4 separate regions of the Homo sapiens genome follow, and regions 2, 3 and 4 are each linked to region 1. The links come from fine-mapping of genetic effects on gene expression. A gene starts in region 1. Each other region holds a variant in brackets. All regions are shown on one strand. Distances are between the middles of the regions.

Region 1 (7,793 bases):
AATCTCGGCTCACTGCAGCCTCTGCCTCCCAGATTCAAGTAATTCTCCTGCCTCTGTGTCCCGAGTAGCTGGGATTACAGACAGACGCCACCACACCCGGCTAATTTTTGTATTTTTAGAAGAGATGGGGTTTCCCCATGTTGGCCAGGCTGGTCTTGAACTACTGACCTCACGTGATCCACCCGCCTCGGCCTCCCAAAGTGCTGGGATTACAGGCGTGAGCCCCCACGCCCAGCTAGACATTGATTTATATGCCTGACTTCTTCTGAGCTTACAGATCTCAGCTCAAATGGCCTTCCCTGACCTTCCCAGCTAAAGCATCAACCTCCCCCACCCACTCTATCGCATCACTCTGTTTACTTCCTGTTGCGGCAATTCACAGCACCTGAATTTATCTCCTAGGTGTGTTTCCTGATTCACTGTTTGCCTCCCCCAGCTGGAGCTCCTGCAGGGCGGGGGTTTGTGTCTGTCTTGTTCACCGTGATCCCACACCTGCCACAGTGCCTGGCATACAGTAGGTGCTCGATAAATGCATGTTGCCTGAAAGAAATAATCAACTGGTTACAGAATGGGTGTGTGCAAATCTGTGTATATCTGTGTCTCCTTGTGTTCTGTGTGTGTCTCGTTGGTGTGATTCTGGGGATGGCCCCACCTGTGTCCCCAGGGACAAGCGCGGCGCTATGGGCCAGTGAGTGTTTGTGGTGAGGGCTTTCCGGGTCTGTGTGTTAGTGATTTTGAGTGGTCCCGTGGCAACCGGTGTGCAAGTCAGTGTCTCCAGAGGTGTTCTCAGAGGTGGCCAGCATCTGCTCTTTTTTGTTGTTGTTGTTTTGTTTTTGTTTGTTGTTTAAGATGGAATCTCACTCTGTTGCCCAGGCTGGAGTGCAGTGGCATGATCTTGGCTCACGGCAACCTCCGCCTCCCGGGTTCAAGCCATTCTCCTGCCTCAGCCTCCCGAGTAGCTGGGATTACAGGCACATGCCACCACACCCGGCTAATGTTTATATTTTTAGTAGAAATGGGTTTTCACCACGTTGGCCAGGCTGGACTCAAACTCCCGACCTCAGGTGATCCACCTGCCTCGGCCTCCCAAAGTGCTGAGATTATAGGCATGAGCCACCGCGCCTGGCCAGCAGCATCTGCTCGTGTGTGTGTGTGTGTGTGTGTGTGTGTGTGAGTGTTCTGTGTGACTGTGGCTGTGAGTCCACATGTGTGTCGGGGTGTTTGTTGTGTATGTGTGTCTGCATGCCCATTCTGCATGTCCACATGACACTGCATGCTCCTGTGTGAAGTTGTGCCCATGAGCACACGTGTCTGTGTTTGCGTATCCTTGTGTGTCCTCTGGGTGTGTCCTTGAGCTTTGTGTTCCAGGAGCCTGCAGCCCTGTTGTGCAGCGCTGTTGTGCTCTGTTGTGCACGTGCATGTGTCTCGTGTCCTCTGTGTGTGGGGTGGCTCCTACATGTAGTTGTGCACACTTGTATCTGCCTCTGTGAGTCCCTGTGCCTATGTGTGACCATGTGTGAAGTGTGATTGTGCAGTATCCCAAAACCATCTGTGTGCACCGCTGTGCAGTAGTGTGCTGGTAAATGTTGAACCTCTCCAGTGGAGAGCACTGATTTATAGCATTGCCAGTCCTCATGGTGTAAATACTCTCGCCACAGCCAATTTCAAGTGATGCCACCGAACAGTGAGTCAGAAAGATATGGACAGCAGCAAACCATTATACAGTATTTCTACCAAACAGGTTCCATACACAAAAGCAACATCAAAAGCATAGATTATGAGGCCAGGTGTGGTGGCTCACACCTGTAACCCCAGCACTTCCGGAGGCTGAGGTGGGCGAATCCTCTGAGGTCCGGAGTTCGAGACCAGCCTGGCCAACATAGTGAAATCCCGTCTCTACTAAAAATACAAAAATTAGCCTGGTGTGGTGGGGGTCACCTATAATCCCAGCTACCTGGGAGGCTGAGGCAGGAGAATCACTTGAACCCAGGAGGCAGAGGTTGCAGTGAGCTGAGATTGCACCACTGCACTCCAGCCCGGGCAACAGAGCAAGACTCCATCTCAAAAAAAAAAAAAAAAAAAAAAAAAAAAAAAAAAGGAAAAGGAAAAAAAGCATAGATTATGGAAAATGCAGCAAAAATAATGTTAAAGTGATTAATTTAAATGTGGTAAAATAGGCATAACGTAAAATTTACCATTTTAACTTTCTTTAAAAAAAATGGGATTTCACTCTGTCACCCAGGCTGGAGTACGGTGGCACAATTATAGGTCACTGCAGCTTTGAACACCTGGGCTCAAGTGAGCCTCCCCGCCTCAGCCTCCGGAGCGGCTGGGACTGCAGGCAGGCACCACCAAATGTGGCGAAGTTTTAAATTTTTTGTAGAGTACTCACTCCAGTGACAGGCTGAAGCCAGCCCAAGAGCCAAGTTTAGTGGAGCATCATGGCTCATGCCTGTAATCCCAGCACTTTGGGAGGCCAAGGCGGGTGGACTGCTTGAGCCCAGGAGTTTGAGACCAGCCTGGGAAACATAATAAAATCCCTGTCTCTACAAAAAAAAAAAATTAACTTAGGCTGGGCGCCATGTCTCGTGCCTCTAATCCCAGCACTTTGGGAGGCCAAGGTGGGAGGATTGCTTGAGCCCAGGAGTTCGAGACCAGCCTGGGCAATATGGTGAGACCCTGTCTGTACTAAAAATACAAACCAAAAAAAAATAGCCAGGCGTGGTGATGTGTGCCTGTGGTCCCAGCTACTCAGGAGGCGGAGGTGGGAGGATCACTTGAGCCCAGGGGATGGAGGTTGCAATGAACCAAAATCACCCCCACTGCACTCCAGCCTGGATGACAGAGTGAGAGCCTGTCTCAAAAGAAAAATTATATATAAAAAATTATATATAAATTATATATAAGTCTATATATAATCCATATATAATTATATATAAAGTATATATAAATTATACATAAATTATCTGTAAACAAAAAACTTAGCCAGGCATGGTGGCATGTGCCTGTAATCCCAACTACTCAGGAGGCTGAAGCAGAAGGATCACTTGAGCCCAAGAGATTGAGGCTGCAGTGAGCTATGATTTTTCCACTGCACTCCAGACTGGATGACAGAATGAGACCCTATCTCTAAAAATAAAATAAACAGTTTTTTGTTGTTGTTGTTGTTGTTTTCTAAAAAAAGCCAAATCTGAGCATTTCCTATCAACTCCACACTCGGTGACATCACACTGGTAGGTGAAATCGGCCATGCTGGGGGTATTTACACCAGGAGAATTGGCAATGGCTACAAATCGGAGAGGTGGTTGTTAAACGTTACCAGCACACCATGTTGTTCCGCCAGCTTCCAGGTACCCATGTAACAATGTAGCCACGTGTGTTTCTGTCTCTCTGTGTGTACCCACCATGCTGGTGTGTGTCTGGGTGCCTGAGTCTCTACGGATACACATGACCTGCACGTCCCTATATGTTGCTGTCTATACACCCATGTGCCTGGGTGAGGCCCCCACACCCTGTTCCTCTTCAGCAGTTGGTTCCACAGGAAGCTGCTGGGGTGGGGGTTGAGGACGCTGGGCCTCCCTCCAGCTCCCCACCCCTCCTCCTCAAGACACCTGCATGCGCAGGGCTGAGGGGTGGGAGCAGGGCTCTCTGCCTCCAGAACCCCCATCCTCTGGGCTCTTTTTAGGCCCCTAGATTGGCCTGCAGCTGGGAGCAGAGTGGCAAGCATGCAGGCAGGCAGTTGAGAAAGAGGAAGTCGAGGTGCTATTGGGTCATTCTGTGGTTATCCCAGGCTCTACCCAGCCAGCGGTTCCCTTGGGCCAGCTCGAAACGCTGGCCGTAGGTCATGGGAGCTGCAGGAGCTGTTAGCCAGGCTAGGTGCCTGCAGGTTGAAGAACTGAGCTCTATCTGGTAAGTACTTATCCTGGGAAGTGGAGAGAGATGGACCCATCGGGACAGAGTGGCAGTGGGGTCTGGGAAGTCTAGGGGGACAGCGAGCAGACATACATCACTGTTTCTCTCCCCCTTGCAGTCAACTTGCTTCCTGAGTGGGTGGGGGAAGCTGTTTGACCCTTGCGTTCATTGTGCAGAGATCTGTGGTCATAAGAGGTCACCCCAGGGGACGGGGATCCTTGAGGGGCTGCTAGGTAAGAAAGGAGGGTGGAGGCCGGGCGCGGTGGCTCACACCTGTAATCCTAGCACTTTGGGAGGCTGAGGAGGGCGGATCACTTGAGGTCAAGAGTTGGAGACCAGCCCGGCCAACATGGTGAAACCCCGTCTCTACTAAAAATACAAAAATTAGCCAGGCGTGGTGGCGGGCAGCTGTAATCTCAGCTACTCGGGAGGCTGAGGCAGGAGAATGGCTTGAACCCGGGAGGTAGAGGTTGAAGTGAGCCTCTCAGTCTCAAAACAAAGAAAAGAAAAAGAAAAGCAAAGAAAGGACGATAGAGCTCCTTGTAGCCAAGGCCCTCCTGCGTGGAGACAGGAGACAGAGAATGAATGGGGGAGCTGGGGCAAAGGCTCAGGTGCCCTTTGCATCTTAAACTGCAGATTCCGGGCCCCCCAAGAACCTCCCTGTTGCAGATTCTGAATCCACTGTCAAAACAAACTCACACTTAAGGCTGATGGCTGACAACCAGCCCTGAGAAGGGTCTTGTCCTGATCTGAAATCATCCAGAGAGCACATCCCTCCACCCAGGCAGCCTTCCTCCAGGTGAGGGTTCTCCCCCTTGGGAGACATCCCCTGTCTCCTCTCGTGGCCCCTTCTTAGGGGGACCTCCTGCACCACCGCCTGCCTGGGACTGGGAGGGGTGGGGGAGGAAGGCTGCGGTTTCTGCTGGGCACACCCAGTCTGTTGTTTCCTGCCAGCCCCCAATGCTGCAGGGCAGGCTTCAGGCACCCTGAGGTCTAGGAAGGTGGCCCCAGAACCAGGAGGGAGTGAATTGAGCTAGAGTGGACAGCTGGGGCCAGAGAGGATGGAGCTAGGAAGTGACGCTGGGGGCTGATGCTCCAAGGCCAGGTCACCTGCAGTTCTGAGAAAAGAACATGACAACCAAAGGAGGTCAGGAAAGGGTTGCCCTCATAATCAGCCACATTTCAACTCCCTTGCTGTGACTGGGAGTCACTCTGGGAGGGCTGCTTGGTAGAGGCAGCCTTTTCATTATGCCTTGAAGAACCAGTAGATGGCAACTGCAAACACGTCGGTGCTTCTGGTCTGGGCTGTCTCCCATGCCTCCCTGGGCATCCCCTAGCCCATGACAAAGGGATGGGCATATGTTGATGCTCGATACTGTTGTAGATGACATGGTGACTGTGTTGGACAGCTGGGCGTTCAAATCCCAGTTCCCTGGCCTCTATGTGGCCTTGGGCAAATGACTTAACTGCTCTGAGCTTTCGTTTGCTCATCTGTTAAAAGGCTGTTGAGTTTTTTGGGGTGGGTGTGTGTGTGTGTGTGTGTGTGTGTGTGTGTGTGTGTGTGTGTGTGTGTGTTGGAGATAGAATCTTGCTCTATCGCCCAGGCTGGAGTACATTGGTGCAATCTCAGCTCACTGCAACCTCCGCCTCTCGGGTTTAAGCAATTCTCCTGCCTCAGCCTCCCAAGTAGCTGGGATTACAGGCACACGCCTCCATGCCCAGCTAATTTTTGTATTTTTAGTAGAGACAGGGTTTCACCATATTGGTTAGGCTGGTCTTGAACTCCTGACCTCAGGTGATCTGCCTGCCTTGGCCTCCCAAAGTGCTGGGATTACAGGCATGAACCACCTCGCTCAGCCTTTATGAAGTTTGGTCTGTGAGATCTTAGTGCAGTGTCTGGCACGTAATAGATCAGAAAACATTGTCAGCCTCACCTATGCCTTCATACTGACCTTGTCCCCAGGCCTTCCTTCCTGAGCAGTCCCACCATCTTCTGAAATGTTCTGGGTCATACCCATGGTGGATCTCAATCTGTAAGCAAGTCTGCTAGAGTGGACTTCTTTTGTTTGTTTGTTTGTTTGTTTGTTTGTTTGTTTTGAGATGGAGTCTTGTTCTATTGCCCAGGCTGGAGTGCAGTGGCACGATCTCGGCTCACTGCAAGCTCCACCTCCCGGGTTCACGCCATTCTCCTGCCTCAGCCTCCCAAGTAGCTGGGACTACAGGCGCCCGCCACCATGCCCGGCTAATTTTATGTATTTTTAATAGAGACGGGGTTTCACCGTGTTAGCCAGGATGGTCTTGATCTCCTGACCTTGTGATCCCCCCACCTCAGCCTCCCAAAGTGCTGGGATTACAGGCATGACCCACTGTGCCCAGCTAGAGTGGACTTCTTAAGGATCCCATCCAGCCATCCCTGTATCATATGCTACTGTATTTTCTCTCTGCCTCTCTCTCTCTCTCTTTTTTTTTTTTTTTTCTGAGACAGAGTTGCCCAGGCTGGAGTGCAGTGGCACAGTCTCAGCTCACTGCAACCTCCACCTCCTGGGTTCAAGCAGTTCTCCTGCCTCAGCCTCCTGAGTAGCTGGGATTATAAATGCATACCACCACACCTGGCTAATTTTAGTAGTTTTAGTAGAGACAGGGTTTCACCATGTTACCCAGGCTGGTCTTGAATTCCTGACCTCAGGTGATCCACCTGCCTTGGCCTCCCAAAGTGCTGGGATTACAGATGTAAGCCACTGCACCTGGCCTGTTGTATTTTTAATTCTAGCATCTTTATCTCCTGTAGGGCTGTTGCTATTGTCTGTGTTTCTTCTTGTTTTTTGGTCATGAGGTTCTGTCTTCTAGTATGCCTGGTAGTCTGATTAAATGCCAGGCCTTGTTTGTGAAAAACTATAGGGATAATTTGTGTCTCTTTATGGTGTCATTTTCCTCCATAGAGCGTTTATTTTTGCTTTGGGCAGGCAGTTAGAGAAAGGAAAGATCACTTTAATCTGATTGTGACCTATGCTGACTTGAAGATGGATTTTGCTCTCGGTGAGGGCTAGTCTATGTCTGGTCCCTCCTTGCTCCTAGGGTGTAGTCTTTTAGGGGTGGCAATCACCTCCTCTTTTTGGGCCCTGAATTCCAATGTTTATTTCCCCAACATAAGATTGCTAAGAGCTACATTCAGGTTCTCAGGCTTTTTCTGGTCTGCCTCCCACTCACTCAAGAACTGTGTTCAAATCAACAACTTGTTTGTGAGGGAAAAGCATTACATTATGTCCTTCTCACTTTCCTAGGTTTCCTTTTTTTTTTTTTTTTTTTTGAGATGGAATCTCACTCTGTCACCCAGGCTGTCGTGCAGTGGCATGATCTGGGCTCACTGCAAGCTCCACCTCCCAGGTTCACGCCATTCTCCTGCCTCAGCCTCCCGAGTAGCTGGGAATACAGGTGCCTGCCACCACGCCCGGCTATTTTTTTGTATTTTCAGTAGAGACGGGGTTTCACAGTGTTAGCCAGGATGGTCTCGATCTCCTGACCTCATGATCCGCCCACCTCGGCCTCCCAAAGTGCTGGAATTACAGGTGTGAGTCGCCGTGCCTGGCCTTTTTTTTTTTTTTTTTTTTTTGACATAGACTCTTGCTCTGTCATCCAAGCTGGAGTGCAGTGGCATGATCTTGGCTCATCACAACCTCTGCCTCCCAGGTTCAAGCGATTCTCCTGCCTCAGCCTCCTGAATAGCTGGGATTACAGGCATCCACCACCATGCCTGGCTAATTTTGTATTTTTAGTACAGACGGGGTTTCACCATGTTGGCCAGGCTGGTCTCGAACTCCTGACCTCCAGTGAGTTGCCCACCTCGGCTTCCCAAAGTGCTGGGATTACAGGTGTGAGCCACC
Region 2 (7,793 bases), 120 kb after region 1:
TATTTCCACAGGAGGCTCAGCCTCCTCTCCAGATGCCGGGTGACTCTGCAGGTCCTTCCGCAGGGAGGTTGGGGCCGTTCTCCCTGAATCTGGGGCTTAGCATCTGAGCAGCTCAGGTCACGGGATCCAGGCCGCCCGTGGGAAGTGTCAGGTGGGGGTGGCCAGGCCCCTCTGCTCTCGGAGGCTGCCCTGGCGGGTGGGGACAGCTGGCCAGCCTGGAGCTGGCCCAAATACCTTCTCTCTTCCAGCGTCCTTCGACCTGAAGCAGCAGCTGCTGCTCAACAAGCTCATGGGGAAAGATGAGAGCACCTCACGGAACCGCCGCTCGCTGAGCCCTATCCTGCCCGGCAGACACAGTCCTGCGCCCCCACCAGGTGAGCCCCCACCCCCTGACATGAGCCCAGTCCCAGGGCAGCGGGGCTGCGGCACCACCCGGCGACTGCTCAGTCTGAACCCTCTCTCTGTTCCAGACCCTGGCTTCCCCGCCCCGAGCCCACCGCCAGCTGACAGCCCCTCCGAGGGCTTCTCTCTCAAGGCCGGGGGCACAGCCCTCCTGCCCGGGCCCCCAGCTCCCTCGCCACTGCCGGCCACACCACTCAGCGCCAAGGAGGACGCCAGCAAAGAAGACGTCATCTTCTTCTAAAAGGGCCGTGACTCAAGGTGCAAGGCCCCTCCCTGCCCTGCCCACCCTTCCTGCTCTCTGGGGACCCCCATGGGGTCACCATGCCCACCCAGCTGTCCCCTCCTCTTCCCTAGCAAACCACTGATGACCGCCTGGCAGGGGCCAGCCTGTCGGTGCTCTGGGCCTTGCAGCTGTTTCTGTAGGGTTAGCGGTGGTGCCGGGGTCACTTTCTGAATCTCTTTTTTTTTTTTTCAAAAAGGAAAGTTTTTAATGGAAAGTTGAGCCAGAACTAAACCAGGGAGCTGTCTGAAATCATAGCACCCCATCCGGGTGGCGGGGAGATCAACTCCGAGCTGTTTTTCCGAGGCAGTGAGGAACGGTGCCGGCTCTGCACGGAGCTGAGGACAGGACAGACCTTGCTTTGAGAAGGAGCTGCCGGCCGGGGCCACGCTCCACAGCCGCCGCGCGACAGTGGAGCCAAGGGTTAGGGCACCAGGAGGGGCCAGGTGGCGTCGGCAGCATCTGTCCCCAGAATCAGGCAGAATCCACTTCCCAAACAGAGCCCCACGCAGGTTCACCATGAACCTCAGGGTCAGGGAATGAGCCAGGCACGGGGGCATGGGCAGAGAGGGCCACGGGGCAGGGCCCACTGAGGGAACATCAGTGGCCCTCCAGTCAGGTTCTGTGGGTTTGGAAGCCCATCGTGAAAGGGGCTGACCTTTGCCCCTTTTTACTTGGCATTGGTTTTGAAACCAGCTGTTTCCCAAACTCTGCTTCCCAAGGGCAACCGTTGCTGTTCACACGCTCAGCCTGTCTGGGGGAGCGGGCCTCTAGCTTCAGCCAGGGCGGGTACACACCCTGGGCACAGGGTCCTCAGCCCCCGGGAAATGAGCTCCCAGGGCTGGCGTCCCACCTTCCAGGTGGGGGCTGGCACATCACAGACTGTCGAGAGCGCCATGTCCCAGGGCATGCAGAGGATGCACCTAGAGACGTTGCAGCAAGTGGACAAGTGGCCGCTGTGCGGGCCCCTCGCTTGTAGTGAGCTGTTGCAGCTTACGGTCCGTTCCCTGGAGGGGTGGAGGAAGGAGGTGTTGGGCAGCATCAAAGGTGCTGGGACATCCCAGGGTGGTGAGATCCATCCACGATCCAGCTCCGGTGGAGAAAGGGCCCATGTCAAGCCTTGTTCTGCACCCCAAGCATTGGTGGTAGGACTGGGTCCTGGCTGATCGTCCTTGTTCCCAGTGGGGTACATGTGAGCCCCTGCCAGGGCCAAGTCCTTCTCCCGAACCCAGGGTCCTGGGAACTGCAGATCCCGGGGGGATTCAGCCCTTCTCCCACTGTGCTGGCAGAGGCACTCCTGTGACGCTGAATACAGTGAACAGGGACATTCCCGCCACTCGGGGACAGATGGGCACAAGGGAGGGGAAACTCCATCAGGAAGTGCTCCCCTGGGCAGAGGCGCCCACTGGGTGCTGTGGGCTCAGGAGGGGGCGGGGCAGGAGCTGGTGCCAACCGGGAACCAGAGCCCCACAGCCATACAGCCCATTGGTGACAAGGTCCTGAGAACACAGTGGCCAGGTGTCCCCAGGCTCCTGGCCCCTCCGACGACCTCAACTCTGCCCAGCCCGGTCCCTGGCCATCAGCGACGCTGTCCGCCCCCCGTCAGATCCCATGTGTGCCATGTTTATCATCAGTGTTTTGTATTTTTGTACTGAGTATCGGAGCACTTTACAGAAGCTGACTGTACATTCCTGTTCTGTTGTGAAGAGAACATTCCCAGACCCTGGCACCCTCCTGAGCCGGCGTGTGCCGGTCCAGCCCTCC[G/A]AGATGCCACAATTCCTTGGATGGGGGAGAAGTTCAAGGAATTTCTGCTCGGCCACGCGGTGGGAACCCCGCGTCCCCGCCATGTGGCAGAGGGGTCTCAGTCGTGCTAGGCATCGGGCGGCAGCGCCGACAGCCCTTCCCTCGCCAGTGCCCCTCGGCCACTCCTGGGTTGGAGCCCGATTTTATTTGTAAAGTTGACAGTCGAGCAAATGTTCCTATTTTCGTGGGATCTGCACACGTCTTTGTCAGTTGTGGTCATGATCTTAGTCACCTGCTAATTATTTTTACAATGATTACAACATTTCCTCACTGCGGGATATTTCTGACCCGCTTTAGAACTTAAGACCTGATTCTAGCAATAAACGTGTCCGAGATGAGCGGTGACTGGCGTGCACGTTCTTGGAGGTTTTATTTGAGGATTTTCTTCTGCCCAAACGTTGCTGCAGGAGTAGCAGGTTCTGTTGGGGGCTCCCCATGGCTCCTGCCCCTCAGCTCGCTCACCTGCCCTCCGTGTCCTGCTTAACGCTCTGAAGACCCCTTCAGGTCCAGTCCCCAGGAGTTGTTGGGGGTTTTGTTTTTGTTTTTGTTTCTGTTTTTTTGGTTTGTTTGTTTTTTTGAGACAGAGTCTTGCTCTGTCGCCCAGGCTGGAGACCAGTGGCAGGTTCTCAGCTCACTGCAACCTCTGCCTCCCGGGTTCAAGCACTTCTCCTGCCTCAGCCTCCTGAGTAGCTGGGATTACAGGTGTGCACCACCACGCCCAGCTAATTTTTGTATTTTTTTAGTAGACATGGGGTTTCGCCATGTTGGCGAGGCTGGTCTCGAACTCCTGACCTCAAGTGATCTGCCCGCCTCAGCCTCCCAAAGTGCTGGGATTACGGGCACAGGGCAGGAGTGGGGCGTGGAGGTGCCTGTGGAGGGTCCTGCCCACCGGGTACACTTCAGGCTTTGGTGGCGCCTCCACGAAAATCTTTTTGCTTTTAATCCACAATAACCGCAAAGGCTGGAACTTTCACTTCCTCCATCTGGGGTGAGAGGCAGCTTGGCCATGAGTATGAAATCATCATTTCCACCTGGTCTGAGTCCCGGTCCAGTGAGGCGAGGACCCTGCTGTTTCAACAGAGGGTTTCCCATCACAAGGGGACTAGGTGTAAAGTCGATCACTAGCTCACTAGGAAGCGCAAAAAGGGAACTCTCAGGCAGCACTGTCCACCAGGAAGATGATGCAGGCCACGTGTGGAATTTTTCATTTTTAGTAGCCATATTAAAAAAGTAAAAGGAGGGCCGGGCACAGTGGCTCATCCCTGTAATCCCAGCATTTTGGGGAGGCGGGGGCTGAGGCAGGAGGATAGCTTGAGCCCAGGAGTTCAAGACCAGCCTGGGCAACATAGTGAAACCCCTTCACAGAAAAATTAAAAAATTAGCCAGGTTGGCCGGGCGCAGTGGCTCACGCGTGTAATCCCAGCACTTTGGGAAGCCAAGGTGGGCAGATTACGAGGTCAGGAGATCGAGACCATCCTGGCTAACAAGGTGAAACCCCGTCTCAACTAAAAATACAGAAATTAGCCGGGCGTGGTGGCGGGCGCCTGTAGTCCCAGCTACTCGGGAGGCTGAAGCAGGAGAATGGCGTGAACCCAGGAGGCGGAGCTTGCGGTGAGCCGAGATTGCGCCACTGCACTCAGCCTAGGCAATAGAGCGAGACTCCGTCTCAAAAAAAAAAAAAAAAAAAAAAAAATTAGCCAGGTATGGTGGCGTGCACCTGTAATCCCAGCTACACAGGAGGCCAAGGCAGGAGGATTGCTTGAGCCTAGGGGTTCAAAGTTGCAGTGAGCTATGATCGTGCCACTGCACTCCAGCCTAGGCAACATGGTGAGACCCTGTCTATAAGAGCTTAAAAAAAAAAAAGGAAATTTGGGGGATAGAAAAAAGAAATGAAATTTAAAAAAAAAAGAAAAAAGGGCTGGACGCAGTGGCTCACGCCTGTAATCCCAGCACTTTGGGAGGCCGAGGCAGGCAGATCACCTGAGGTCCGGAGTTTGAGACCAGCCTGGCCAACATGTTGAAACCCCATCTCTACTAAAAACACAAAAATCAGCCGGGCGTGGTGGCAAACACCTGTAATTCCAGCTACTCTGGGGGCTGAGGCAAGAGAAGCGGTTGAACCCGGAGGCGGAGGTTGCAGTGAGCCGAGACTGCACGATTGCACTCCAGCCTGGGGGACAACAGTGAGACTTCGTCTCAAAAAAAAAAGAAAAAAAGGATGTAATTAATTTATTACATTTTTATTTATTTTTTTGACATGGAGTCTTGCTCTGTCACCCAGGCTGGAGTGCAGTGGCACGCTATCTTGACTCACTGCAACCGCCGCCTCCCAGGTTCAAGTAATTATCCTGCCTCAGCCTCCCGAGTAGCTGGGATTACAGGCACCCACCATCATGCCCGGCTAATTTTTGCATTTTTGTAGAGATGGGGTTTCACCATGTTGACCAGGCTGGTCTTGAACTCCTAATCTCAGGTGATCTGCCTGTCTCGGCCTCCCAAAGTGCTGGGATTACAGGCGTGAGCCACCGCGCCTGGTCTATTTTTTCTTCATTGTGGTCAAATGCACACAACATAAAACTGGCCAGTTGCTATTCTCCTGATGGTGGGCATTGGAGTGTGTGTGTGTGTGTGTGTGTGTGTGTGTCTCCCCCCACCCTCTGATTTGCTCCACCCCAACCCCAGCCGTCCTCTGACCTCTGCCTAGCTGACCCCTCCACTGGGATGCCCCCAGCCTTCCTCAGCACTCCTTATGGGCCCTGGGGGGCTTGGAGGCACCCTAAAATGAGATGTTCTGCAAAGAGGGCCTGTAGTGGCTGGGCACGGTGGCCCACGCCTATAATCCCAGCACTTTGGGAGGCCGAAGTGGGTGAATCACTTGAGCACAGGAGTTCAAGACCAGCCTGGGCAACGTGGTGAAACCCCGTTTCTACTAAAAATACAAAATTAGCCAGGCATGCTTGGGCGTGCCTGTAGTCCCAGCTACTCGGGAGGCTGAGGCAGAGAATTGCTTGAACCCAGGAGGCGGAGGTTGCAGTGAGCCGAGATCGCGCCACCGCACTCCAGCCTAGGCGACAGAGTGACTCTGTCTCAAAAAAGAGGGCCCGTAGTCTTTAAGGTTCACAAAGGGGTCTGTTCCCAGCCCCTAAAAGGTTGAAAACCACTGGACCAGAATGGGCAACCCAGGGACAGAGTAGTGGTCACCAAGCCTGGGGGCTGCGGGTGGGTAACAGCTGAGGGGTGTGAGGTTTCTCTCTGGGGTGATGGAATGTTCTAAGGTTGACTGTGGCTCTGCTTGCACGACTGTGAATGTACTAAAAGCCACTGAACTGTCCCCCTTCTGTGGATAAATTTTATATGTGAATTATATTTCCATAAAACTGTTTAAACACACACACACACACACAACCACACACACACACAACCACTGGACCAGCTGAGAGAGTGGGAGAGCGGCCTCCCTTTCTGGAAGCATCCAACCTGTCTGCTCTGTGCCTGGGCTCCACATGGTCAGTGTCCAAGGCCTTCCCAGCCCAGGCTGTATCCCTGAAGGTGGCTTGCTTTTCCTCCTGGCACCTGTGACCAGGTGGTCATGTGGCTTCCCCACACAGAGGCGCTGCTCCAAGGGCCCCACTGGTATGAGCTAGTAAGTAGTTGGGTCTCCAGGTAGACAATGAGATGCCCTAATCATGCAGGTGCTGCTAGGGGCTGGGAAGGAGGCCTCTGCTGAGGGCCAGGACAGGCCTGCACCCCCGACAAGGGAAAGAAGGGGGAAACCCACCAAGCCTGGCCCACTCGTGAGTCCTGGGCAGAAGGAGCCCCCACAGATGGGGTCTCCCGCACCCGTGTGACCCTGAGCAGTCCCCGGCCTCCCAGCTGCTCAGAGCCACCTGGTATCTTCCTTGTAAAAAACAAACCACAAATGTACTCTGGGAGGCCGAGGCAGGCAGCTCACTTGAAGCCAGGAGTTCAAGACCAGCCTGGGCAATGTGGTGAGACCCTGTCTCTACAAAAAGTTTAAAAATTAGCTGGATTTGGTGATAAACACCTGTAGTTCCTGCTATTCAGGAGGCTGAGGTAGGAGGATCCCTTGAGCCCAGGAGTTTGAGGCTGCAGTGAGGCTATGATCGCACCACTGCACTCCAGCCTGGGTGACAGAGATCCTGGGTCAAAAAGATAAAAATCAAGGCAGTGCAATTGATATCACATGAGGCCCAAGGGCGCACACACACTGGCTGTTGTGTGTTCCTGGGCCAGGCTGTGCAACAATGTCTGCCAGAGGCCACATGTGCACAGACTCTGAAGGGTTGTTCTCAGCCAGCAGACTAAGCAGTGCCCTCATCCCATCCCACCACACATTGGCTGAGGTGGGAGCCCCAAGTATCTTCAGCGATGCCAGTGTGTGTTGCCCAGTCTCAGCCTGGAGCCCTTAAAATGCTCACAGTGGCCCTGCGTCGGCAGCACAGTGGCATGAGGCCACGCCCTCGGGTGGCCTGATGAGAGGTGGCGCCTCTGGCCTGTGTGCCCAGGACTCTGGGGAGTAGAGAACAGCCCTCAATGGCTGGAGGCCACTTGGGGTCCGTGGGCAACGCTTGCTCAAAGATGGAGAGGACCCACCGGGCTGAGGGCATTCCTGAAGGTGGGCTGGGGTAGTGTGGTTTCCAACTTTGGGTCCGTCCTGTGGAGGGTAAGGGGCCAGGAGCCAGCAGTGTAATAACCTTCACCCCTGAGCCAGGCGCCAGCACCACAATGTTTAATTGATTCCCGTTCCAGCTTTCTCAAGGCACGACAGGCCCCCTCTTCCTCATCTTGATTTGGATACAAGACGCCAGCTGGCAGGCAGGAGGTGCTGCTGAAGCCCTGCACGGCCCCTGAAAACTGTCACGGCTCAGGAGCTCCAGGCTGAGGCCTGGGGGACCTCGCATCAGTCCCTCCACCCACCCTGCCCATGGGTTTCACCACAGGCAGCTCCATGAGAGCCCCGGCCCCTGCCCTGGCGGCTTCTGCTTTGCGGGAAGGGCCCTCCGTGGGCTCTGGCTGTGTCCCTGTGCTCTTCCGGCAGTGTCAGGGGGTAGTGGCCTCGGCCTGGCCGCCGGCCCGGGCCGCCTGGTACATGCTGAGGATTGAGGAGATGGTGCCCATGAGGCCCACTAGCCACGGCGGGAAGCGGCCGGCCCACAGCACGCCCCGGGGCAGCCAGTGCACGGCGTTGGCCAGGTCGGCCAGGTTGCTGAGAAGTGACAGCGCCTCCGACTGCATCTGCGCCTCCATGGCCCTCCGCTTGCCCCGGGGCAGCGGGCTGTGGGGCAGA
Region 3 (7,793 bases), 110 kb after region 1:
GCCCAGAAAGGCAGCTGTAACCTGGGCCTTTCTGCATGCGTGGGCCACTGCACCTGCCATGGCGGGCTCTCTGCATTCTAGGGCCAGATTTGTTGGAGCAGGGCATGGCATCTTGTCCTTCCTCCTTGGGCCGAGCACCCCTCAGGGCCCAGAACCAGCTGGCTTCCCCTCCCTCTCTTTATTTTTTATTTTTTTGAGACAGAGTCTTGCTCTGTCACCCAGGCTGGAGTGCAGTGATGCAATCTCGGCTCACTGCAGCCTCCGCCTCCCAGGTTCAAACGATTCTGCTGCCTCAGCCTCCCCGAGTAGCTGGGATTACAGGCGTGAGCCACTGCGCCCAGCCTATTTTGTTTTGTTTTGTTTTGTTTTTTAGAGTCTGGCTCTTGCTCTATCACCCAGGCTGGAGTGCGCTGGCACAATCATAGCTTATTGCAACCCAAACTCCTGGGCTCAAGCCATCCTACCCCCTCGGCCTCCCAAGTAGCTTGAACTACAGGCATACACCACCACACCCAGCTAGATTTTTTATTTTTGTAGAGATGGGGCCTCACTGTGTTGCCCAGGCTGGTCTTGAACTCCTGGCCTCAAGCCATCCTCCTGTCTTGGCCTCCCAAAGTGTTGGGATTACAGGCGTGAGCCACCATGCCTGTCCACTCCCTCTCTTGATTCCCGGAGGCTTCCTGGTGCCTTAATCTGGTTCAGACTCCCCCATCCACAGTAGCTGTAGCTCTACGGGGCTTGCAGCCACCCACCTGCACCTGGCAGGTCCTCTGCAAGCCCGCTGTCCCCTGGACTCCTCCTCTAAGTCACAGGCAGGCATGTAAAGCCTCTTCCTGGTTATGCCCTGGCGCTTTGGGGCGGGATGAATGTCAGTGGCTCTCTCTCTTCCCCTCCTCGTCCTCCTGCACCACGAACAAGCTAAATCACTCCCAAAGTCAGAGACGGTCGTGGCGGCTGGTTCTGCAGAACCAGCGTCTGTGCCGAGGCTGGCCTGCCTGGGAAGCACAGTTACCCACCCGACTCCTCTCCCTGCAGCTGCCCTGACGAGGAGGAGGGGCCCTTCAGCCTGCCCGAAGAGGAAAGGAAGGTGGTCGAGGCCCGCGCCACGAGACTCCGGGACTTTCAAGGTGAGCGGGAGACAGCGTCTGGGCACACCCCTTGTGTGGTGAGCCCTGGGCCCTCCATCAGGACTGGCCACAGAGGGTGAACTGCCCCCCAGGTGACCCGGTGTTTTCCCGTGGGCTGTGCCATGTCCTGCAGCTCTGTGAAGCATTAGAACGGGCTGTGCCATGACATAGCGATCTCCAGAGGTCACTTAGCCCTTTGGGGGTATGTGGGAGAGGGAGGGAGGAGAGCCCAGAGGACCTGAGCCCCTTCCAGAGCCGACCACACAGCCACACACGCCACCACCACCCCATCCTCGTGCAGCCAGGAGCTCAACAGGGCATCCCAGTCCCATACGAAGGAATAGCACAGGGTCCCCACAGCCTCCTTCCAGAGCTTCCTCCTCCCTGTTTAATTACACGATTGAGATGTAATTCACACACCACAGCACTCACCCTCCCAAGCGTGGGGTTCAGGGGCATTTCAGTGCATTTCCAATTATGCAGCCAGAATCATGTTAACTTTAGAACATCCCACCACCCCAGAAAGAAGCCCCGTCCCCCTTAACAGTCACTCCCCACCCCATGCCCCAACCCTGGCAACAGGAATCTACTTCCTGTCCCTGTAGATTGGCCTGCCCTGGACATTCCACATAAATGGAGTCACACCGCGCGGCCTTTTGGGTCTGGCTCCTCTCGAGGTGTGGTATTAAGGTTCGCCCGCGCTCAGTGAGCACTTTGTCAAGAACAATTCCTGGTGCCCTGTAGCCTGCGGCAAGCTCCCTTCTTCCCTTTCACTGTCTGTATTTTTTTTTATTTTATCTTCTTTTTTTTTTTTAAACAGAGCCTCGCTCTGTCACCAGGCTGGAATGCAGTGGCGTGATCTCGGCTTACTGCAAGCTCTGCCTATCAGGTCCAAGAGATTCTCCTCCCTCAGCCTCCCGAGTAGCTGGGACTATAGGCACCCGCCACCACGCCCCACTAATTTTTGTGTTTTTAGTAGAGATGGGGTTTCACCATGTTGGCCAGGATGGTCTCAATCTCTCGACCTCGTGATCTGCCTGCCTCGGCCTCCCAAAGTGCTGGGATTACAGGCGTGAGCCACCGCTCCCGGCCCTGTATTATTCATTTCTAAATTGGATAATACTCAAACAATAAGTGGCCTGGTATGGTGGCTCATGCCTGTAATCCCTGCACTTTGGGAGGCTGAGGCAGATGGATCACTGGAAGCCAGGAGTTTGAGACCAGCCTGGACAACATGGCAAAACCCTGTCTCTACAAAAAATTTAAAAATTAGGCTGGGTGCGGTGGCTCACGCCTGTAATCCCAGCACTTTGGGAGGCCAAAGCAGGTGGATCATTTGAGATCAGGAGTTTGAGACCAGCCTGGCCAAGATGGCAAAACCCCGTTTCTACTAAAAATACAAAAAATTAGCCAGGCATGGTGGTGCGTGCCTATAGTCCCAGCTACTCGGGAGGCTGAGGCAGGAGAATCGCTTGAACCCGGGAGGTGGAGGTTGCAGTGAGCCGAGATTGTGCCACTGCACTCCAGCCTGGGCGACAGAGCGAGACTCCTTCTCAAAAGAAGAAGGAAGGAAAGAAAGAAAGGGAGGATGGAAAATTCAGTTTTCTAAGGCTCTAAGTTGGTCCCAGACTAATAAATGGGCCTGATACAATCCTCACTCACACCCTACTGTGTTTGATTTTATTTTATTTCTTTTAGAGACAGGATCTTGCTTTGTTGGCCAGGCTGGAGTACAGTACTGCAGTCATAGCTCACTGCAGCCTTGAACTCCTGGGCTCAAGCGATCCTCCTGCCTCATTTCCCAGGCATGCACCACCACAACCAGCTAATTTTTTATTTGTAGAGACAGAGTCTCATTATGTTGTCCAGGCTGGTCTCGAACTCCAGGCCGCAAGAGTCCTCCTACCTTGGCTTCCCTAAGTACTGGGATCGCAGGCCTGAGCCACCACAGCTAACCTGATTTTTATAACAAGGGGGAAAATAATCAGAGGACAAGGCCATGCCCTCCCCTACCTCCCAGGAATGCAGGACACAAGGGGGCAGCCTACCTCAGGGCAGGGCCAGCGGGGTTCCTCATCCTTAGGCCAGTCCCCGGGGCTCAGATGATTCCAGGGAAGGCCGACCCGGCTGACTGCCACCTCCACCATCACTCTGCAGAGCGGTTGAGCATGAAAGACCAGCTGATCGCACAGAGCCTCCTAGAGAAACAGCAGATCTACCTGGAGATGGCCGAGATGGGCGGCCTCGAAGACCTGCCCCAGCCCCGAGGCCTATTCCGTGGAGGGGACCCATCCGAGACCCTGCAGGGGGAGCTAATTCTCAAGTCGGCCATGAGCGAGAGTAAGTTGGCTGCCCACACCTCAAGGGTGCAGTCTTGCCGGGGTGGGCTCCTCAGGGAACCCCAGGCCAGGCTCACGGCTCATTGTGGCCGACACGGCACCCTGTCCAGGACAGGCTTCTATGTGGGGGGGGCCCAGGAGCAGCACTGACCGCCCCCCGGTGCCTGTGAGAGCCAGAAGGGCCTTAGACATAATCTGGGCCAAGCCGCTCCTTGCAGACATAAAGCACTTTCTCCCCGTTCAACAACCGCTCTGATGCTCCCTGCATGCAGAGGCTCTAAGCCGGGCCGTGGGGAGGATCTGAAGTTGACTAAGACTGGTTCCCTACCTACCAGAGGTTCCTCTTCTTCCTGGGAGGTGGGTCCTGGTGATATCCCCAGAAAAACACACGCACACTCCCTCAGTGGGTCCCCACGCACAGCTCTAACACAGCCGCCAGGCCCCTGGGCTGGCCGCTTGAGCAGGCAGTCAGCGCCCAGTCTGCTCTTTCTTTTTTTCTTTTCTTTTTTTTTTTTTTTTTTGAGATGGAGTCTCGCTTTGTCACCCAGGCTGGAGTGCAGTGGCGTGATCTCGGCTCACTGCAACCTCCACCTCCTGGGTTTAAGTAATTCTGCCTCAGCCTCCTGGGTAGCTGGGATTACAGGCACCCACCACCACGCCCAGCTAATTTTTGTATTTTTCGTAGAGATGGGGTTTCACCATGTTGGCCAGGCTGGTCTCGAACTCCTGACCTCAGATGATCCACCCTCCTCTGCCTCCCAAGGTGCTGGGATTATAGGCGTGAGCCACCGCGCCCTGCCTCAATCTGCTCTTTCAACAGTGAGGGAAGCCGACTCAGCCCCTGCCTTCCAGAGCCTTTCCGCAGAATAAGACGGCAGAGACGGGGGTCAGTCTTTCTCCCTCCAGGCCCACTGACATCCTTCCACCCGGCTCCAGTGGCCATTGTTCTTGGCCCCCTGGGGACACTCTCATATCCCGCACCTTGGCCTGGAATGTTCTTGTCCCCACCTCTGTGCCTGGCCACAGCCTGTTGGTCCTAGAGGGCTTTCTGTAGACAGCCCTTCCCCACAAAGTCACTCTCCCATATGGCCATTGTCACACAATCAGTGTATGGTCATTGTCATATAACACACCAAGTGTTTCCTGCTGGCCCTGGGCAGGGCCACATCCAGCATTCGCCAGCCCCTGGCCCAGGGCGGCCTGGTGGAAGGAGCTGCAGGAGCCTGTACCCGCCCTCCCCATGGCTGCCCCACAGCCCTGTCCTCTCACTTAGACGCAGATTGGCCTGTCCTGGTGGCCATACCTGAAGTAAGGGTGTGCGCAGGGACAGTGGGGCTGAAATCCCACGGCACACAGAAGGGGGCAGGCGATCACCACCCCAGTGAGTCCCTCCGTCCACCCGGGTCTCGCTGCCCCAGCGCTCCGTATTCCCCCAGCACACTTCCGCAGGGCGACCCGTGCCTCCTGTCCCCTTCCTTCCACAGTCGAGGGCATCCAGAGCCTGATCTGCAGGCAGCTGGGCAGCGCCAACGGCCAGGCGGAAGACGGAGGCAGCTCCACAGGCCCGCCCAGGAGGGCTGAGACCTTCGCGGGCTACGACTGCACAAACAGCCCCACCAAGAGTAAGAGCGGGGCCGTCTCCCCTCCTGCCTCCAGGGCCGCCCCTCAGGATGCACATTAACTTGTATGGGGTTTCCTAGAACTTTCTTTTTTGTTGTTGTTGAGACAGAGTCTTGCTCTGTCACCCAGGCTGGAGTGCAGTGGCGCAATCTCAGCTCTCTGCAACCTCTGCCTCCTGGGTTCAAGTGATTCTCCCGCCTCAGCCTACCAAGTAGCTGGGACTATAAGCACACGCCACCATGCCCGGCTACTTTTTGTATTTTTAGTAGAAATGGGGTTTCACCATGTTGGCCAGGCTGGTCTCGAACTCCTGACTTCAGGTGATCCGCCCGCCTCAGCCTCCCAAAGTGCTGAGATTGCAGGTGTGAGCCACCGCACCCAGCCGATTTTCTGGAACCTTCTGAAACCCTCCAGACATCGTTGGTTGTGTTGTGACAGCAGCACCCAGACCAGCCTGCCCCTCT[C/G]CAGCAGGCGTCTGTGCTGCAGACGCCACCATTCGGGCCTAGCCTGGGTTTCCTACCTGGGCAGGGGCTGGGGGTGGACTGGGAAGCTTCCCCCTCCCCACGGGATGGCAGCATCCTCATGCCCCTGGCTTGGGGTTCTCAGATGGCAGTTTCAAGAAGAAAGTCAGCAGCACTGACCCCAGGCCCCGAGACTGGCGAGGCCCCCCAAACAGCCCGGACTTGAAGCTCAGTGACAGTGACATTCCTGGGAGCTCTGAGGAATCGCCGCAGGTGGTACGTGGATATCCATTTGCTCGGTACAGTCTGAGTCGTCATAAGGATTCATGTGTGTGAGCAGCTTCTGCTGGGGTTGTCCAGTTTTAGTCTTATTAGCATCGACAAGCATTGTTTGTTTTGTGGTGAATAACAGTATCTCAGCCCAGATTAATGCACTGGCAGGTGATTTCTTCCTGCAGCCTCCTGGGAAAAGCAAAGAGGTCCCCAAGAGGAAGGCTGGGGAGGGGACAGGCTCAGGGCACTCACCATGGCTTCATCAACAGGCGAGGAACCCCCTACAGGGACCACCAGCTTTCAGCCGGGGCAGGTGTGGTGGTGCCTACCAGATGCCAGATGTCCCCGGCTATTCCTTTGCCTTTGAATCAGAAGGCCAGGTGCCTACTCGGCCCTGCCCAGGTCAGGGGGTCAGAGGCCAAGGCCAGTTGCCTCTGATCAGTTCTGAGGCTTGGACTTGCCCCTGTGGCCAGAGCTGGCACGCAGGCCTCATAGCCAAGCCCACTCTACCTCCCAGGAGGCCCCAGCCCCTCGTTTTCCAAACACCCAGATTTGTACAAGTCAGCTGACCAGCAGGGCCTGTGTTCCCAGTCATGACCCGGTCCTGGGTCCTTCCTGTTATCCACACTAAGGGATGTATTTTCAATAATAAGCAGGGGCCGGGTGCAGTGCCTCACACCCATAATCCCAGTGTTTTGGGAGACCGAGGTGGGAGGATCACTTTTTTTTTTTTTTTTTGGAGACAAGGTCTCACTCTGTCACCCAGGCTTGAGGGCAGTGGCGTGATCACAGCTCACACAGCCTCTAACTCCTAGGCTCAAGCAATCCTCCCACCTCAGCCTCCCAAGTAGCTGAAACTACAGGTGCGCGCCCCCACACCTGACTAATTTTTTAAATGTTTGGTAGATACAGGGTCTCACTATGTTGCCCAGGCTGGTTTCCAACTCCTGGGCTCAAGCAATCCTCCTGCCTGGGCCTCCCAAAGTGTTGGGATTATAGGCAAGGCCGCCATACCTGGCCTTGGGAGGATCACTTGAGGCCATGAGTTTGAGACCAGCCTGGGCAACATAGCAAGACCACATGTCGACAAAATATTTTTAAAATAGCTGATCCTTTGGCTGGGTGCGGTGGCTCATGCCTGTAATCCCAGCACTTCAGGAGGCCGACTCGGGTGATCACTTGAGTCCAGGGTTTGAGACCAGCCTGGCCAACATGGTGAAACCCTGTCTCTACTAAAAATATAAAAATTAGCTGGACGTGGTGGTGGATACCTGTAATCCCAGCTACTCAGGAGGCTAAGGTGGGAGAATCGCTTGAACCTAGGAGGTGGAGGTTGCAGTGAGCCGAGATTGCACCACTGCACTCTAGCCTGGGCGACCAAGCAAGACTTTGTTTCAAAAAAGTTAAAAATAGCTGCTGGGTGTGGTGGCTCACGCCTGTAATCCCAGCACTTTGGGAAGCCAAGGCAGGTGGATCACCTGAGGTCAGGAATTCGAGACCAGCCTGACCAACATGGTGAAACCCCGCCTCTACCAAATATACAAAATTAGCCAGGCGTGGTGGCACATTCGAGTAATCCCAGCTATTTGGGAGGCTGAGGCAGGAGAATCACTTGAACCAGGAAGGTGGTGGTTTCAGTGAGCTGAGATCGTGCCATTGCACTCCAGCCTGGGCAACGAGCAAAACTCCATCTCAAAAAAAAAAAAAAAAAAAATTAAAAATAGCTGATCCTGGTGGTGCACACCTGTAGTCCCAGCTACTCAGGAGGCCGAGGTGGGAGGATCAGGCCACTACACTCTAGAGCAAGGCCCTGTCTCAAAAAAAAAAAAAAGAAGCCAGGCATGGTGGCTCATGCCTGTAATCCCAGCACTTTGGGAGGCCGAGGCGGGCGGATCACCTGAGGTCAGGAGTTTGCAACCAGCCTGGCCAACATGGTGAAACTCCGTTTCTACTAAAAATACACAAAATTAGCC
Region 4 (7,793 bases), 60 kb after region 1:
AATAATAGGATGCAAAGTGTTACCAAACCGAACTCACCTTTATTGTGTGCGACAGACTCGGGTGCTTTATTTTTATTTTTATTTTTTTGAGATGGAGTCTCACTCACCCAGGCTGGAGTGTAATGGCATGATCTTGGCTCACTGCAACCTCTGTGTACTGAGTTTAAGAGATTCTCCTGCCTCAGCCTCCCCAGTAACTGGGATTATAGGTGCCCGCCACTATGCCCAGCTTATTTTTTATATTTTTAGTAGACACGAGGTTTCACCATGTCAGTCAGGCTGGTCTCAAACTCCTGACCTCAGGCAATCCGCCCGCCTCAGCCTCCCAAAGTGCTGGGATTACAGGCGTGAGCCACCGCGCCCAGCGACCTCTTCCAACTTCTAAAAGGTGGCCCTAGGGATTCCTCGGCTTGTAGCCATGTCATTCCACACCCTCCGTGGTCACGTGGCCTTCACCTGTGTGTGTGTTTCCCCTCTGTATCTGTGTCTCTAAATCTCCCTCTCCTTTCTCTACACAGACACCAGTCATAGGCTCTAGGGCCCACCCTAAATCGAAATTTCATCCCGAGATCCTTAACTAATGACCTCTGCCCCAGGCTCTCTTTCCAAAGAAGTCCATATTCCAGGGTTCTTAGTGGACGTGAATTTTGGTGGGACACTGTTCAGCCCACTTCAGGAACCTCCTATTTCTAGCGATTTGTAAACAACAAATTTGTTTTGTTTTAGTTTTTGTTTTTGAAACAGGGTCTTGCTCTGTTGCCCAGGCTGGAGTGCAGTGGTGCGATCATAGCTCACTGCAACCTCTACCTGCCAGGCTCAAGCAATCCTCCCGCCTCAGCCTCCTGAGTAGCTGGGACCACAGGCATGCACCACCACGCCTGGCTAATTGTTGGTTTTTGTAATGCTGTTTTGTAGAGATGGGGTTCCACCATATTGCCCAGGCTGGTCTTAAACTCTTGGGCTCAAGGGATCCTGCTTCAGCCTCCCAAAACACCGGGATTCCAGGTGGGAGTCACCATTCCCAGCCTAGAACAAGTTTACAAGCTATTGGCACTCATTTCTTAGGCTCTTTACAACACAGTGATTTTCCAGTATTTTGAAGTTGAAGTAAATGTAGAAGGTCTCACTCTTTAGAACCAGTTAATTGCAGAGAGGAAAGAGGAGGTCTTCAGGAGAACACCAGATTCTTTTTGTTGTTGTTGTTATTGAGACGGAGTTTCGCTCTGTCACCTAGGCTGGAGTGCGTTGGCGCTATCTCGGCTCACTGCAACCTCCACCATCCGCTTGGGTTCAAGCGATTCTCCTGCCTCAGCCTCCCAGGTAGCTGGGATTACAGGCGCGTGCCACCACGCTTGGCTAATTTTTGTATTTTTAGTAGAGACAGGGTTTCACCATGTTGGCCAGGCTGGTCTCGAACCCCTGACCTCAGGTGATCCACCCACCTCGGCCTCCCAAAGTGCTGGGATTACAAGCGTGAGCCACCACACCTGGCCTCCAGATTCTTTTTGAAAAGCTTCTAAATCTGAATTCTCTGTGAATATAATTTGCCAAAACGTATGAGTAGGAATCTGATATTACAGTCTGTCAAATGTCTGGCCGTGTGCCTATACTCCATATAATCTTTTCCTTCCCCTGCATTCAGATACCACCTTCATCAAACACAAAAGTGTTATAGATTCAGAGAGGGCAAAAAACAAAGCTGTACCAGCTGCCTTCCCCTGCACCTAGCTTACGAGCTGACCTTGAGACACAGGATATGTTAAAATATATTCAAGCTCACACTGTTGCAGTTCTAAAAGGAATGCTAATGAAGGTCTTTGCAAGGTTCTGGAATTTTCCTAGCGTAGGAGCTGGTTGCTGACTTATATTAATAGTTATAGCCACCTGGCACAGTGGCTCACGCCTGTAATCCCAGCACTTTGGGAGGCCGAGGTGGGCGGATCATGAGGTCAGGAGATTGAGACCATCCTGGCTAACACAGTGAAACCCCGTCTCTACTAAAAAAAAACAAAAAAAAACAAAAATTAGCCGGGCGTGGTGGCGGGCGCCTGTAGTCCCAGCTACTTGGGAGGCTGAGGCAGGAGAATGGCATGAACCCGGGAAGCAGAGCTTGCAGTGAGCGGAGATCGTGCCACTGCACTCCAGCCTGGGCGACAAGGCAAGACTCCGTCTCAAAAAAAAAAAAAAAAAAAGGTTATAGCCATCATACTCAGGATGGTAGGGAACTTGAGATGCTCAGAAACCAACCACTGGCCAGGCATGGTGGCTCACGCTGGTAATCCCAGCACTTTGGGAGGCCAAGGTGGGTGGATCACCTGAGGTCAGGAGTTCGAGACCAGCCTGGCCAACATGGTGAAAACCCCGTCTCTACTAAAAATGCAAAAATTAGCCGGGTGTGGTGGCGGGCACCTGTAATCCCAGCTACTCAGGAGGCTGAGGCAGGAGAATCGCTGGAACCCAAGAGGTGGGGGTTGAAGCGAGCCGAGATTGAGCCACTGTACCCCAGCCTGGGTGACAGAGTGAGACTGAGTCTCAAAAAAAAAAAAAAAGAAACCAACCTCTTTGCTACTTGTTTGTGGCCTGTTTGCTCCCAGCATGGGCAATTTCAAGCGTCTGGAATTCAGTAATGACTTTGCACAGCGAATCCACTTTGCCACTCCTTTTATTCCGGTTCCTTCTGCACATCAGGGATAGAGCATTGGGAGTTCCCAGACTGCATGAGCCCAGCTGGTTGCATTTGAATTCTTGGAAATAGGCTCTCCCTTCCAGAACAAACCAATTAGATATAGTAGGCCAGGGGCCAGCAAATTTTTTCTGTTAAGAGCTAGGTAGAGGCCGAGACGGGCGGATCACGAGGTCAGGAGATTAAGACCATCTTGACTAAAACGGTGAAACCCCGTCTCTACTGAAAATACAAAAAAACTAGCCGGGCGTGGTGGCCGCGCCTGGAGTCCCAGCTACTCGGGAGGCTGAGGCAGGAGAATGGCGTGAACCCAGGAGGCGGAGCTTGCAGTGAGCCGAGACCGCGCCACTGCACTCCAGCCTGGGCAACAGAGCGAGACTCCGTCTCAAAAAAAAAAAAAAAAAAAAAAAAAAGAGGTAGTAGGCTGGGTGCAGTGGCTCACGCCTGTAATCTCAGCATTTCAGGAGGCAGAGGTGGGCAGATCACTTGATCCCAGGAGTTGGAGACCAGCCTGGGTAACGTGGTGAAACCCCATCTCTACTAAAAATACAAAAATTATCCAGGCATTGTGGCTTATGCCTATAATCCCAGCTACTTGGGGGGTGAGACAGGAGAATTGCTTGAACTCGGGAGGTTGAAGTTGCAGTGAGCCGAAATCGCACCACTGCCTCCAGCCTGGATGATAAAGTGAGACCCTGTTTCAAAAAAAAGAGAAAGAGCCAGATAATAAATATTTCAGGCTTTGCAGCCCACATAGCCTCTGTCACAGCCACTCAACTCAAAAGAAGCCACAGACAACAGAGAAACAAGTGGGCGTGGCCGTGTTCTGATAAAATTTTATTTACAAAAACAGGTGGCCAGCCCACAGACAGTAGGGGTTCACCAGCCCCTACAGTAGACGCATCATTTTTACAGTTCTGTTTCTAGGGCCACAATGGTCTGACTAAATTTGGCGAGGGATGCGGGTTAGGGAACAGGAGGCCCTCACCTGTCTCATGAGCTTAGCAGCTGTGTCCCAGGTTGACCTCTTCACAATCTGGGCCCATCCATGAGCAGCAGCTCCCTGAGGGGCCCCTCTTTATCCTGCAGTGTGTTTTCTAAGGGAGTAATGATCTGTTGTGGTATTTGCAAGCCTGGGGGTGTTCAACATAGAGTTTGAGTCCCCCCAGATGAAAACAACAAGACCGGCTGAGTGCAGTGGCTCACGCCTGTAATCTCACACTTTGGGAGGCTAAGGCGGGAGGATCACTTGAACCCAAGAGTTCAAGACCAGCTTGGGCAACATAGTGAGACCCCATCTCTACAAAAAGAAATATATAAACTTACACACGCGTGGTGACTACAGGTAGGTAGTGTGCACCTATAGTCCCAGCTACTTGGGAGGCTGAGGCAGGAAGATCGCTTGAGTCCAGGAGTTCGAGACTGCAGTGAGCCGTGATTGCACCACTGCATTCCAGCCTGGGCAAGAGCAAGACCCTGTTTCTTTTTTTTTTTTTTTTTTTTGAGTTGGAGTCTCGCTCTGTCGCCCAGGCTGGAGTGCAGTGGCGTGTTCTCGGCTCACTGCAAGCTCCGCCTCCTGGGTTCATGCCATTCTCCTACCTCAGCCTCCCAAGAAGCTGGGACTACAGGCGCCCACCACCTCGCCCGGCTAATTTTTTGTATTTTTAGTAGAGACTGGGTTTCACCATGTCAGCCGGGATGGTCTTGATCTCCTGACCTTGTGATCCA[C/T]CGCGTCCGGCCGACCCTGTTTCTTAAAAAAAAAAAAAAAAAAAAGACTTAATGGCAGTCCCAGTCCATGCTATGGAAAGGTTGGCCTCTGTGAGAGTTTGGATTAGATTGGAAACTAATGAAGAGTCTTTTTTTTTTTTTTTTGAGTTGGAGGCCACTCTATCACCCAAGCTGGAGTGCAGTGGTACAATCTCGGCTCACTGTAACCTCCACCTCCTGAGTTCAAGCTATTCTCCTGCCTCAGCCTCCCAAGTAGCTGGGATTACAGGCGCCTGCCACCACCTCCAGCTAATTTTTGTATTTTTGTATTTTTTAGTAAACACGGGGTTTCACCATGTTGGCCAGGCTGGTCTCAAACACCTGAACTCACACTTGAGCCAAGGCCCACCTCGGCCTCCCAGAGTGTTGGGATTACAGGCGTGAGCCATCGCGCCTGGCCTGTGAGGGGTTTTTCTTTCTTTCTTTCTTTTTTTTTTTTTTTTATTGAGATGGAGTCTCACTCTGTCGCCTAGGCTGGAGTGCAGTGGTGCAACCTCAGCTTACTTACTGCAACCTCCGCCCTCCAAGTTCAAGCGATTCTCCTGCCTCAGCCTCCCAAGTAGCTGGGATTACAGGTGCCTGCCACCACACCCGGCTAATTTTTTTTGTATTTTTTTTTTTTTTTTTTAGCAGAGATGGGGTTTTACCATGTTGGCCAGGTTGGTCTTGAACTCCTGACCTCGTGATCCACCCGCCTTGGCCTCCCAAAGTGCTGGGATTACAGGCGTGAGCCATCATGCCCGGCCTGTGAAGGGTTTTTCTAAGGTTCACCAGCCCTGACATCATTGCAGTTCCCTTTTTCCAGAAATGCAGTGCCCTTGAATACTTTCCCCGCCCATTGAAGGCAAACAGGGTTTTTTCTGGCATTCTGCACACCTGTTTTGCTGCCCTGCCTTCCGCCTGTGACTGATTGCTTTTGATCTGCTGAAAGAGAAACCCCCGGCCTCTCTCAGGTGTTTGGTTTCCTCTGTCCGTCTTAGAGTCACCTCTGCTGACATTTATTTGCTGTTTATTTCCCACATTAAAATTGTTGGCTTGAAATATATATATATATACACACACACATACATACACACACACATATGTATATAAATCTTCCAGCTTTCTGGAAGATTTCAGCTATGTAACTAGACCTGAATTAATGTTTTCAGAATCAGTCTTCTTTTCATCAAAATGTTTTTCAGGGGCTGGGCATGGTGGTTCGCGCCTGTAAATCCCAGCACTTTGGGAGGCTGAGGCTGGCAGATCATCTGAGGTCAGGAGTTCGAGACCAGCCTGGCCAACACGGTAAAACCCCATCTCTACTAAAAATAAAAAAATTAGCTGGGTGTGGTGGCATGCACCTATAATCCCATTTACTTGGGAGGCTGAGGCACGAGAATCGCTTGAACCTGAGAAGCAGAGGTTGCAGTGATCTGAGATTGTGCTATTGCACTCCAGCCTGGGCAGCAGCGTGAGACTCCATCTCAAAAAAAAAAAAAAAAAAAGGTTTTTCACCCTTGTCATTTTGATTTCTGCCCAGTCAATAGAACTAACATAATTGTTTAAAAAATGCCACGCACTGCCCTTCCTAAGAAGGCCTCAGGGGGTGGAATAGTTTTGCTGGGACCTCTTATACTTCAGCATCTGGCCTGTACCCAGTGTCAAGAGAAATACTCACAAGGCAGATGCTTTTTCAGCATCTGCAATATCTATAGGTGATATTGAAGGTCCCTCCATCCTGATACCAGAAAATAGTGTGAAATTTGCACAAAAGGAAGCAGAGGATCTCAGAACAAGCCTGGGCAGCGCAGGGCCTCTCCACCTGAGACCTGGCCTTAGGCACTTTCTTTTGTCAGATATGTTAAAAATGAAGTTGCACACCAAGCTTCTCTCTTTCCTTCTTTTCTTCCTGTTCCTTTCCCCTACCTCTTCCCCTTCCCCTTCCCCTTCCCCTTTCCCTTTCCCTCCCCTCCCCTTCCCTTTTCTTTTCTATTTCTTTTCTTGACAGAGTCTTGCCCTGTTGCCCAGGCTGGAGGGCAGTGGTGTGATCTCAGCTCACTGCAACCTCCACCTCCCAGGTTCAAGCAGTTCTCCTGCCTCAGCCTCCCAAGTAGATGGGATTACAGGTGCACACCACCATGTCCAGCTAAGTTTTGTATTTTTAGTAGACACAGGCTTTCACCATGTTGGCCAGGCTGGTCTTGAACTCCTGACCTCAAGTGGTCTGCCCACCTCGGCCTCCCAAAGTGCTGGGATGACAGGTGTCAGCCACCGTGCCCAGCCAAGTGGCATCTTTTTTTAAAAAAATCATTTTTTAAGTGCACAGGTTGGTGGCATTAAACACATACACATTGCTGATGCTACCATCACCACCATCCATCTCTAGAACTTTCTCCTCTTCCCAAGCTGCAACTCTGTCCTCATAAAACACTCACTCTCCATCCCCCTCCCCAGCCCTTGGCACCCACCATTCTACTTCCTGTCTCTATGAATCTGACAACTCTAGGGACCTCCTAGAAGTGGAGTCACATACGATGTATTCTTTTGTGACTGGCTTATTTCACTGAGCATAGTGTCCTCAAGGTCCATCTGTGTGTCAGAACTTCCTTCTTAAGGCTGAATAATATTACAGTGTGCGTGTATGTCACGTTTTGTTTATCCATTCATCTATACATGCACACTTATTTCCATGTTTTGTGTTTTTTTGTTTGGTTTTTCTTTTTTTTTTTTGAGATGGAGTCTCGCTCTGTCACGCAGGCTGCAGTGCAGTGGCGTGATCTTGGCTCACTGCAACCTCTGCCTCCCGGGTTCAAGCAATTCTCCTGCCTCAGCCTCCCAAGTAGCTGGGATTACAGGGGCGCGCCACCACACCCGGCTAATTTTTGTATTTTTAGTGTTGGTCAGGCTGGTCTCGAACTCCTGACTTCGTATTCCGGCCTCCTCGGCCTCCCAAAGTGCTGGGATTAGAGGCGTGAGCCACCGCGCCCGGCCTATGCTAGGGTTTTTAGGAACCACCAAGCTGTCTTCCATAGCAGCTGCCCCATTTTACCTTCCTACCAGCAGTGTATGAGGGTCCTGGTTTCTCCGCCTTCTCACCGAGACACTTAATTTTCGGTTTTTTAAATTATACCATTTTAGGCCAGGAACGGTGGCTCAGCCTGTAATCCCAGCACTTTGGGAGACGAAGGTGGGCGGATCACCTGAGGTCAGGAGTTCCAGACCAGCCTGGCCAACATGGCAAAACCCCGTCTTTACTAAAAATACATAAAGTAGCCGGGCGTGGTGGCAGGCGCCTGTAATCCCAGCTACTCAGGAGGCTGAGGCAGGAGAATCACTTGAACCCAGGAGGCGGAGGTTGCAG

The links. PIP is the estimated chance that this variant, and not a neighbour inherited with it, causes the effect. A credible set is the group of variants that fine-mapping cannot tell apart.
Region 2: its variant is the best candidate, but not a certain one, in a credible set for the expression of ARHGEF18 in whole blood (INTERVAL, PIP 0.63).
Region 3: its variant is the best candidate, but not a certain one, in a credible set for the expression of ARHGEF18 in whole blood (INTERVAL, PIP 0.50).
Region 4: its variant is the best candidate, but not a certain one, in a credible set for the expression of ARHGEF18 in whole blood (INTERVAL, PIP 0.65).

The regions. Positions count from the first base shown.
Region 1 is chr19:7,345,333-7,353,125 of GRCh38, forward strand. It overlaps ARHGEF18 (Rho/Rac guanine nucleotide exchange factor 18), which reads left to right and starts at 3,605. Exons shown (of 29, transcript NM_001367823.1): 1 at 3,605-3,909.
Region 2 is chr19:7,469,656-7,477,448 of GRCh38, forward strand. ARHGEF18 (Rho/Rac guanine nucleotide exchange factor 18) reads left to right here. Exons shown (of 29, transcript NM_001367823.1): 28 at 249-374; 29 at 471-2,823. The coding sequence ends at 643. PEX11G (peroxisomal biogenesis factor 11 gamma) reads right to left here. Exons shown (of 5, transcript NM_080662.4): 5 at 7,220-7,781. The coding sequence ends at 7,547. Among named protein-coding and RNA genes, the nearest start is that of PEX11G, 15 kb to the right of the region's middle. RefSeq lists a silencer at 3,500-3,549 and an enhancer at 7,191-7,793. The variant G/A (reference allele first, on the strand shown) is at 2,447.
Region 3 is chr19:7,458,868-7,466,660 of GRCh38, forward strand. It overlaps ARHGEF18 (Rho/Rac guanine nucleotide exchange factor 18), which reads left to right. Exons shown (of 29, transcript NM_001367823.1): 20 at 1,036-1,127; 21 at 3,285-3,467; 22 at 4,951-5,088; 23 at 5,693-5,823. Among named protein-coding and RNA genes, the nearest start is that of PEX11G, 26 kb to the right of the region's middle. The variant C/G (reference allele first, on the strand shown) is at 5,551.
Region 4 is chr19:7,404,892-7,412,684 of GRCh38, forward strand. The region is part of intron 10 of ARHGEF18 (Rho/Rac guanine nucleotide exchange factor 18); the gene reads left to right. Among named protein-coding and RNA genes, the nearest start is that of ARHGEF18-AS1, 14 kb to the left of the region's middle. RefSeq lists a silencer at 5,119-5,258. The variant C/T (reference allele first, on the strand shown) is at 4,412.